Regions from separate parts of the Homo sapiens genome. Here region 2 is linked to region 1. Evidence: fine-mapped expression QTL. A gene starts in region 1. The other region holds a variant in brackets. All regions are shown on one strand. Distances are between the middles of the regions.

Region 1 (5,374 bases):
GATGGGCTGATTAACTGACCATTTAATCAGGGGGAAGATGACTTCCAACTTCCGGTTTTGGTGGTTAGGGTTGGAGCCAGGTCTCTGAAACTAGTGACGCAGGAGCAAGGGTGGGTGGGAGGGGTATGGGTGAGTCCAGTGGGGACAGAACTCTGCAACCCCAACAATTCATGGGAGGTGGAATCTGAGAAGGAGCTGCCAGAAGAATGGGATAGAAGCCCAGGAGAAGAAATATTTCCAGGAGGGGGCCGGGCGCGGTGGCTCACGCCTGTAATCCCAGCACTTTGGGAGGCTGAGGCGGGCGGATCATGAGGTCAGGAGATCGAGACCATCCTGGCTAACACGATGAAACCCCGTCTCTACTAAATATACAAAAAATTAACCGACCGCGGTGGCGGGCGCCTGTAGTCCCAGCTACTCGGGAGGCTGAGGCAGGAGAATGGCGTGAATCCGGGAGGTAGAGCTTGCAGTGAGTTGAGATCGCACCACTGCACTCCAGCCTGGGCAACAGAACGAGACTCTGTCTCCAAAAAAAAAAAAAAGAAATATTTCCAGGAGGGAGTGCTAAACTGTGCTACCAAGAGAGGGAGGGAAGAGGATGAGGGAGGACAGAAGGAGGACTAGGGGAAGTGGTGGGAGGATTGGAGAGGCTTGGGTGGCTGGAGGAAGACGGGAGGACAGAGGGGGGGATGGGAGGAAGAGGGGTGTGGGGAGAGTTGGGGGAGGATGTGGGGGCAGAGGGTGGAGGAAGCAGTGAGAGGATAAGAGGAGGATGGAGGGGATTGAGGGAAACAGCTGGAGGCTGAGGAAAGATGGGGTTGGGGGGTGGTGGGAAGGGTAGTGGATGCTGGGGGAGGCAGCCTTCTATTTCCATAGGACAAATTTGATACTCTTCTAATCCCTTCAGTGGCCTTCTATTTCCCTAGAACAAATTCCCAAATGGTACTTAACACTCAAGGCCCTTCAGAGGCTGACCCCTGCTCCATCTACTGCCCCCTCCCATGCTGCCACCCCAGCCCCAAGGCTGGCAAATATTGACAGTTCCTGGAACTTTGGGCCACCCTCCTTCTCATCTCTATTCTTTTCCAAAGTGTTGTTCCCCGACCTGGACATTCTTCCTAGCCCCATCCAACTGATGTGATGGACAAACTATACTTCAGATACAGCTGGAGGTGCGGGGGGGGGGGGTCCCTTCTTTTGTGAACCTTCCTAGTGGACCCCAAGCAGAGTTGGTAACTCCATCCTCTGTGCTTACCTCCTTACTGCACTGTGCCTAGGACATGGTCAGGACTCAGAAAGGCTGTGCTAAATAACGCACATTTAACCTGTTTCCTTGTCTTCTCCCCTACTCTAAGGTTGGCTTCATCCTTATATCCTACTGATATGGTTTGGCTCTGTGACCCCACCCAAATCTCATCTCGAATTGTATTCCCCATAATCCCCACGTGTCAAGGGAGGGACTTGGTCGGGGGTGATTGGATCACGTCAGCGGTTTCCCCCGTGCTGTTCTCGTGATAGTGAGTGAATTCTCACGAGATCTGTTGGATGTAAAAGGGGCTTTTGACCCTTTTGCTGGGCACCTCTCTTCCTGCAGCCATGTGACGAAGGACGTGTTTGCTTCCCTTTCCGCCATGATTTTAAGTTTCCTGAGGCTTCTCCAGCCATGCAGAACTGTGAGTCAATTAAACCTCTTTTCTTTATAAATTACCCTGTCTCAGGTGGTTCTTTATAGCAGTGTGAAAACGGGCTAATACACCTACCATACTTCTAACCCCCAACGCCTGACCCACCCTGCCCTGTTTACAACAGTGGCTGGCCTTAGCAAGTCATTATCGAAGAAATCACACCATTTAGGACTCCACTGTACACGTTGGGGTGTTCGCTCCTTGTTTCATGAGGGGCACACCAACTTCCGTTTTTGTTTGTTTGTTTGTTTGTTTGGAGATAGGATCTTGCCCTGTTGCCCTGGCTGAAGTGCAGTGGTGTGATCTCAGCTCACTGCAGCCTCGAACTCCTGGGCTCAAGTGATCCTCTCACCTCTGTCTCCTAAGTGGCTGGGACTACAGGTGTGCAACACCACGCCTGGCTAAGTTTTGTATTTTTGTATTTTTTTTTTTTTTTTTTTTTTTTGTAGAGAAGAGGTCTCTCCATGTTGCCCAGGCTGGTTTCAAACTCCTGAGCTCAAGTGATCCTCCGTCTTGGCCTCCCAAAATGCTGGGATTACAGGAGTGAGCCATTGTCCCCACCCCGCACCAACTTCTGATGAAGTCAGGCTCCTTATTGGCTTTTTCCTGAGTTGCCAGGTTGACACATTGGTGGGTGCTTTTCGATGGTTCGCAACCTACGCACGTCGTAATCATCCTTGGACCTTTTCAAAAATCAAGATTGACGCTTGTTGGCAGCAAGGCCTAGGAATGTGGAGGCTGAAGGAGGTGAGGGGAGGTGCTGGGAGACCTGGAAGGAGTGTGAACTACAGGCCCCGCGAAAGGCAGAGGTCTCGCTCCTGGATCCGGAAGAAGGCTGCTGAGCGGGCTTTCATTTCTTATGTATGTGCAGTTTCTTCTGAAGATATAATTGATGTTTATTTCTCTGAATAAGCTTGATTATAATGGAAAATAGGGATAATAAATTAACTGTAATAAGAGTGACATTGACACTGAAAAACCTTGCCTGGGGCGCTTGTCCTGGGTGTCCCCGCCCCGCGGCCCCTCCAGCCCCGCCTGCTCTACGCCCCGCCCCGCCCCTCCCCTCCACGCCCAGGGGGCGTGGCAACCCGGAGTCCCTCCCCTACCCAGGGCACGTGATCTGTCAGTTCGCGGAGAGGGAAGAATATGGCCGCCGGGTGTGGTGAGGGCGACGCGCTTGCAGTCGCCGTCTCTTGCTTCCCCGTCCTCTGACATCGCCTGCAGCCGAGCGGGCCCGTTCCGCCGGAGCTGAGGACCAGGTTGGGAGACCGTCAGTGTGGAGGCCGGTCCGCGAAGCTTTGCCGCGGGATTGGGGAGGAGTCGGGGGCGAGGCCGGGCTCGGGGAGTCGGGCGGGGAGGTGGGACAGCCGAGGAGTGCGCGGAAGGGGCGAGCTCGGACCGGGGGTCCCGGGGAGGGCATGGCGCGGGCCCCGGACGCTCGGGCCCCGGCTTTCGGGGCGAGTCCGCGTTTCCTGGAGCGCCGGGAAGGTCTCCGACCTTGGAGTCTCTGGTGGTCTGTCTCCTGAGGGGCCCCTCGGGTGGGTTGGGGTGAAGGGTGTTGGTAAAACCGTTTTTTTTCTTTTGCCAAGCAGCCTCTGGCACATCCACCACCTTGAGAGCCCCCTTAGCTGGTACCGCTAGTCTTTCTAGGTTCCTCCTCCTAGGCTTCCACGGGCCGGGAGGTGTTGTTTTCTCCCTTGCTTTTATCGTGGGCTCCATTGCTCCATTGTCCTGTGCAGGCTTTTAAACGCCTGGCAAAATAGTGCAAGCCATTGATTTCCACGCCTCCAAGATTTATTTATAGGGAAATAATTTCTTCATCACTTTGTAATGTTGGAATTTTTATTCTTTCAAGTTGACAGGTTTAAACCGATGAAAAATTTTTTTATGAATAACTATGCAGCCATCTCTGCTCCCTATGGGCGCTTGTTAAAAATGTAGATTTCTTAGCGTTTTAGAGATTCCCATTCCTTCGGCCTGAGGTGTGGCTCGGGAATCACCCCTTCAGGTTCGTTCCTGTCCACATTTTGACAACACTGAGGACCAGACATCTACACCTTTTTAAACCACCGTGGGGTATTGAGTGCAGAGCCCAGGTTGGGAAATGCCGTGGCCAGGTGTGTTCTTTGTTCTCTTCTAGCTTTACTAGCATGGACTACTTTCATCAGAATCATTTTGGGGTGCTTGTTAAAATGTCAGTTTCTGGGCACCACCCCAGATCTAGGGAATGGGATTCTCCCGGGGAGGAGCTCAAGGGATATGTGTATTTGACAAGCTTCCCAAATAATTTTGGTGCACACAAGTTTGAGAATCCTTGTTCTACACCCTTTGTGTGAATAATTTCCAGATCATTCACACACAGTGTGAACGGTATCTTTTTCCAAGTATTGGGTGGGTTTCTCCAACCTAGTTCTTTTGGGACACTTCAAATTCAGCCTGGCCAAAGCCCCATTCGCCCAGCTGGGGTGGTGGAAGGGAGGAGGCATAACTTAAGTAGAGAAAAGTCTGCTCTTTCTCCTGCTTTTTTTTTTTTGGTTAAGGGCAGCTCCATTCTTCAGTCACCTATGCTGGGCATCTGGTCATCTTCCACCTGTTTTCTTTTCCAACCAGTCACATAGTTTTATCTTTATATCCAGAATATCTCTTCTGGATATTTTGGTAGTTCAGAAAGTTCAAATGTCAGGGATTTTATATTTTTCAAGTTAATATCCCTCATTTCTTCTCTATTCCCACTGCCTCTCTTGTGTACTGTCTGGTGATTCCTTGACTGGTATCTAGGGCCCTGATTCTTTGTATTTTTCCAGTCTGGGTCACATACACTGCCAGATTAATTTTTATAGGATCATGTATGAATGTGCCATCCCCTTCTTCCTGCTTTTGCTCAAGAACGGTCAGTTTCTCCATTTTATGTGCTACTGTATTTGTCAGGGCTGTTTAGAAGACAGTAGAAACTTAAACCTTTTACTTCAAGGAAAAGGAGATAATAGGATTGAATGAGAGTCAGAAAGAAGTCAGGATCCCAGGTACCTCCATTTTCTACATCTCCCTGGGGCAACTTTTTTTTTTTTTTTTTTTTTTTGAGACAGGGTCTGGCTCTGTTGCCCAGGCTGGAGTGCAGGTGGTGTGATCTTGGCTCACTGCAGCCCTGACCTCCTCTTAGGGGCCACATTTGTTCTCTTACTTAGGAGGAGTCTCTTTTCTGTTCATATCTGTTGTATTCTCTCTTTGCTGATTGGCTGTCTCAGAACTGTATCATTTTATGTGTGACCCATATTGATTGGCCCAGTCTCTGGTTTCTAATTCCCAGTTCTAGAGAGAGAAGTCTGATTGGCCCAGCTTATCTTTTTCAACAGTTTCATGCCACAGATCATATGCCCATCCCTGGGAATGGCTGATGCTAGAGAACATGGCTGTTGAGGGTAGCAGGGGCTGTGGGTGGGCAAAGTCCTTCAGAAGAGGTATCTTTAGCATACCTATGCAGTTATTTAATTTGATGGTTATCTATTAAGTTTCTACCTGTTCTAGATCTGTAATAGGTTCTGGGGATGTAAGAATGAAGGAGAGAGACAGCCCTTAATAAATTAGTTCAAGGCTGGGCATGCAGGCTCACACCTGTAATCTCAGTGCTTTGGGAGGCTAAGGCAGGAGGATCACTTCAGGCTAGGAGTTCAAGAGCAGCCTCGGCAATA
Region 2 (5,374 bases), 100 kb after region 1:
GATTTGGGGGAAGGTTTTAACGAAGTCTTTATAGTAGGTATTTCACTAAGGTATACTTTTTATATCAGAGTACTGTGTAATAAAGTAGAACGTTAATAACCAGCCTCTAATATTTATATACTTGAAAGAATGACATCTGAGAGAAGTTTTTTAAAGAATTATGAGCATATGTAGACACCATTTTACTCATCTCAGCCAATTTTAGAAAGGTTTCAGATAATGTCAGTTTCCTTACAGAGCTGGCTCGTGCTAGTCCCTGTTTGCATGAGTCAAACACCGGCTTTTCCATGGATAAGCCCCACTTTCTCCTTCAGGCAGCTGGTTGGTGTCAGGAAAGAGCGGGGTCTCCCACACGAGTCCTTTGTGATGATTTTGTTCCCATCGGGGTAGTGGTTTTCTCCCCACTCAGCTCTTTGCTCCTAGACCCCGGCTTTCTGAAGCCCCTCAGAGCCGCTGGCCTCCTCCGTGCTTAGGGCTCCGCGGCATTGTTGCAGCAGGACCTCTGTCACAGACTTGCTGTGTATACTGTTTTCTTCAGGATTAACTTGGAAACTGAACATTCTATTGATTATAAACATAGCTATTTCATAAATTTGCCCCAGTTAATAAAGTCAGGTTTTACATTTTATAAAAGCAGTAAGCTACCTATTATTAATAAAGAAAATGCTGTTGTTTCATTTAGGGGAAACTAGAATTACAGGGAACCAAAAGTAATAACTTCCTTTTTTATGATTTTTTTTTTCTTTGAGATGGAGTCCTGCTATGTCACCCAGGCTGGAGTGCAGTGGCGTGGCCATGGCTCACTGCAACCTCCCGCCTCCTGGGTGCAAGCGATCCTCCTGCCTCAGCCTCCCAAGTAGCTGGGACTACAGGCATGTGCCACCACTCCCAGCTAATTTTTGTAGTTTTAATAGAGATGGAATTTCACCATGTTGGCCAGGCTGGTCTCGAACTCCTGACTTTAGGTGATCCACCCACCTCAGCCTCCCAAAGTTCTGGGATTACATGCGTGAGCCACCGCGCCGGGCCTTGTGAATTTAATAGACTGGAAAATTAGTGGGTGGGCATTCTTCATATCTGTATCTAATATAACGGATAAACAAGTTTGCCAGGCCTACTTCATTTAGAACGTTGTTAGTGACCAACACGCTTATGAGAACAGATGTCTTTGTCCCCTCCCAGCAGCTTGTGTTCATGTTCATATTTTCTAAGATTAGAAAACAAAAACTAACAGTTTTGTTGTTGCTCATGACAGCATAGGTAGTTTTGGAAATAGGAGGGTTAGTTCTTCGGTTGGTCCCAGAAAATGCCTAAGACATTTGGGAAAATATGAAGTGGCTGATGTTGTTCAAATTCAGCTTGTTTATTGTATTATTATATGGGATGATAACCTTTTTTTTGGTCAGCCTTTCTGGTCTCTAGAGACTTATTTAAAACTAAATATAAGCATACTTGGCAATCACTAGTAATTCAGAATATTTCACATTCTGTCTTTATACCCATAATTGTTTTAATTTTTACTCAGGCAAACATAAATGGCCGTGTGTTAGCTCAGTGTAACATTGATGAGCTGAAGAAAGAGATGAATATGAATTTTGGAGACTGGCACCTTTTCAGAAGCACAGTAAGATATTTGTAACATTGTGATGTTTACAACATTATTTTATGATAACATTCAAAATTATTTATAACATTGTAGAAAACCAGTATCAATAAGTACTGGCCTAAACTGGTATTTTTTTCATATTTTTTTAAATTTAAAAACTGCTTCTTACACTTATGTGCAATCCTGTGTTGTGGAAAATACACACAGCAGCACTTGGCAGCCTTTGCCTTTTTGGGCATTTCACTCAGAGATTTGGGGAAGAGGCCGCCTGCCGGTTCTTCATGCTTTCACCTGCCTTAACTCTCATCAGGCTCCTCAAAGCCTTCGAGGCCTTGACCTTCAGCATTCATCCTTATAGGGCTTGCATTGCCCAGGTTTAGCAAGAATCCTGTTAAGTCAGTTTACATGTGTGATCACCCTCAGTATTTGATCAAACGCCTCACTAACCCCCCCACCCCCAGGTGATGTCGGCTCACCCTGGCCATCGGCGTACCAAGAGTCCCCCACTCCTGCTGCCTCCCCTTAGTAATGTTCCATCCACGACCCCCACCCTGCCCCTTGGTGGTAGATCCCCACTCATTCGTGCTTATTCCGAGTTGGACTCCCTTCTGTAGTGAGACTGCTTACCCCTGTTGCCATAGTTCTGAATAAAATCTGGACCTACCGCCCTACTCCTGGCCAGCTCTGGTTTTGACACAAGCCAG[C/G]TGCATTTTTCTTTGTCCTCAAGTTAAGTTTTAAACAGAAGTAATAATTTAATGGACAAATTGCAGTGTAGTATATGTATGGTGGTTTCTACCATTGCTTCCTTTAGTATTAATGAACATGAAAGATAAGCTGATGTATAAAACAAATTCACTAGAAATTCACTTACCAGAAGTATGCTTTCTCATTGCTGTTGCAATAGCTTTATAATGTTTGGTATTTCTAAATATTTCTAAAGCTTCTAAAATATGATTTGTTAGTGTAAATATTTATGTTTTTCTTCTGTTAAGGTACTAGAAATGAGAAACGCAGAAAGCCACGTGGTCCCTGAAGACCCACGTTTCCTCAGTGAGAGCAGCAGTGGCCCAGCCCCGCACGGTGAGCCTGCTCGCCGCGCTTCCCACAACGAGCTGCCTCACACCGAGCTCTCCAGCCAGACGCCCTACACACTCAACTTCAGCTTCGAAGAGCTGAACACGCTTGGCCTGGATGAAGGTGCCCCTCGTCACAGTAATCTAAGTTGGCAGGTATTTATTGAATGGCATTTTTCATATTATTGAAGAATAAGCACACCGTTCAGTTCACTGAGATTATATGGGCATTTAGACAGTCATTCAGAAAATGCTTACTGAATACCTAAGTGAACAGGAGACAAGATGGAGGGCTCCCTGTACTCAAGGAGCTGCATCCATGTGGAGAGGGGCAGTCAGTGAAACAAACAAAAAAGTAGCTCATGTAGACATTGATGAGAGCTGAGATATCCATCAGGGTCACAGCATGCAGAGTCAATAGGGATTAGGCCACTTGAGCTAGGGTGGTCAGCAAATTCAGCCTTTCTCAGGCGATCTTCCTGTTGCATTCAGTAACTGTTGGTTGAAGTACATCTTCATTGGAACACTGGCCACATAGTGTCCCTTTGAGCACCATCCTTTGGTTTTCCAGGACGCCTGCACACCCTTCACGGATATTGGTTTCTTCTGGTCTGGCATTAGATGTAGGCGCGTTCTTCCTTTGGAGATTCTTAGAAGAAGGAGGCCAGGTGAGGGGTAGGGGTAGGGGCAGGGACAGAGCAAAGTGAGAGATGCAGGAGGAGTAGCGGGAGTGAGGAGAGCGCAGGAGGAAAAGCAGAGCAGGGTGTGGAGAACAACGGGGGAGGAGGCACAGCGGGCGGCAGCGAGTAACACTGAGTGGGCAGGGCAGGGCAGCGGTGAGGAGGAGCAGCGCCTTGGGGAAGGAAGAAAATGTCCTATTTCCTTGAGAAGGTCCCCAACAAATTCACTTTGCTCCTTCTTTTTTGTTTTAGCCTTTGCTCTTGACCCTTCTTAAACTTTCTTGATTCTTCTCCTTCTTTTTCCTCATCTGTACTTTTTGCTCCTTGTTTCTTAGCTATTCTGGGATCTGAAGCAAATTCTAATTCTAAAACTTAATATTGGAAATAAACTTGTAAAACTACTTTATTTTTCTGTTTACTAAGGCCCAACTATTGGCCTCATTGCATTTTATATTTTATCAATGAAGTTGACTTTGGCCTTAAATAAAAGCTAAACGTTTGAAGTTATAAAAACAAGTGCTGTGGCCGAGCATGTGGGACATGCCCATAGTCCCAGCTGCTCAGGAGGCTGAGGCGGGAGGATTGCTTGAGTCCAGTAGTTTGAATCTAGCCTGGGCAACACAGCAAGATCCTGTCTCTTAAAAATGAAATAAAAACCAGAAACAAGTGCTAAGATTATTTGTTAATACAGTGTTTAATCATACTTTTAAATATTAACAATAAACTGATTTTATTAAAATTTATAGAAAGCTTTCTAGTAACAGCATTATAAGGTCACAGCTTTTGTTAATCTGTGTTATGTAGAATTCTTTTAAAAGAATTTGATGTTTTGATGACTTTTTAAATGGTTAGTGTACATATATATTTCCTAAGCTGATGTTTATGCCTTTTTTCTTCTTATTTGAATTTTTAAATTATTTTTTTTCTGTCTTCACAGTCACAAACTCGCAGAACCCCAAGTCTTTCGAGTCTCAATTCCCAGGATTCCAGTATTGAAATTTCAAAGCTTACTGATAAGGTGCAGGCCGAGTATAGAGATGCCTATAGAGAATACATTGCTCAGATGTCCCAGTTAGAAGGGGGCCCCGGGTCTACAACCATTAGTGGCAGATCTTCTCCACATAGCACATATTACATGGGTCAGAGTTCATCAGGGGGCTCTATTCATTCAAACCTAGAGCAAGAAAAGGGGAAGGATAGTGAACCAAAGCCCGATGATGGGAGGAAGTCCTTTCTAATGAAGAGGGGAGATGTTATCGATTATTCATCATCAGGGGTTTCCACCAACGATGCTTCCCCCCTGGATCCTATCACTGAAGAAGATGAAAAATCAGATCAGTCAGGCAGTAAGCTTCTCCCAGGCAAGAAATCTTCCGAAAGGTCAAGCCTCTTCCAGACAGATTTGAAGCTTAAGGGAAGTGGGCTGCGCTATCAAAAACTCCCAAGTGACGAGGATGAATCTGGCACAGAAGAATCAGATAACACTCCACTGCTCAAAGATGACAAAGACAGAAAAGCCGAAGGGAAAGTAGAGAGAGTGCCGAAGTCTCCAGAACACAGTGCTGAGCCGATCAGAACCTTCATTAAAGCCAAAGAGTATTTATCGGATGCGCTCCTTGACAAAAAGGATTCATCGGATTCAGGAGTGAGATCCAGTGAAAGTTCTCCCAATCACTCTCTGCACAATGAAGTGGCGGATGACTCCCAGCTTGAAAAGGCAAATCTCATAGAGCTGGAAGATGACAGTCACAGCGGAAAGCGGGGAATCCCACATAGCCTGAGTGGCCTGCAAGATCCAATTATAGCTCGGATGTCCATTTGTTCAGAAGACAAGAAAAGCCCTTCCGAATGCAGCTTGATAGCCAGCAGCCCTGAAGAAAACTGGCCTGCATGCCAGAAAGCCTACAACCTGAACCGAACTCCCAGCACCGTGACTCTGAACAACAATAGTGCTCCAGCCAACAGAGCCAATCAAAATTTCGATGAGATGGAGGGAATTAGGGAGACTTCTCAAG

Evidence for each region. PIP is the estimated chance that this variant, and not a neighbour inherited with it, causes the effect.
Region 2: its variant is fine-mapped to the expression of KIDINS220 in whole blood (INTERVAL, PIP above 0.99). The same link has a PIP of 0.9 or more in tibial nerve.

The regions. Positions count from the first base shown.
Region 1 is chr2:8,835,050-8,840,423 of GRCh38, reverse strand. KIDINS220 (kinase D interacting substrate 220) reads left to right here and starts at 2,811. Exons shown (of 30, transcript NM_020738.4): 1 at 2,811-2,944. RefSeq lists silencers at 2,635-2,684, 2,695-2,754.
Region 2 is chr2:8,730,905-8,736,278 of GRCh38, reverse strand. It overlaps KIDINS220 (kinase D interacting substrate 220), which reads left to right. Exons shown (of 30, transcript NM_020738.4): 28 at 1,526-1,624; 29 at 2,599-2,835; 30 at 4,297-5,374. Among named protein-coding and RNA genes, the nearest start is that of ID2, 52 kb to the right of the region's middle. The variant C/G (reference allele first, on the strand shown) is at 2,311.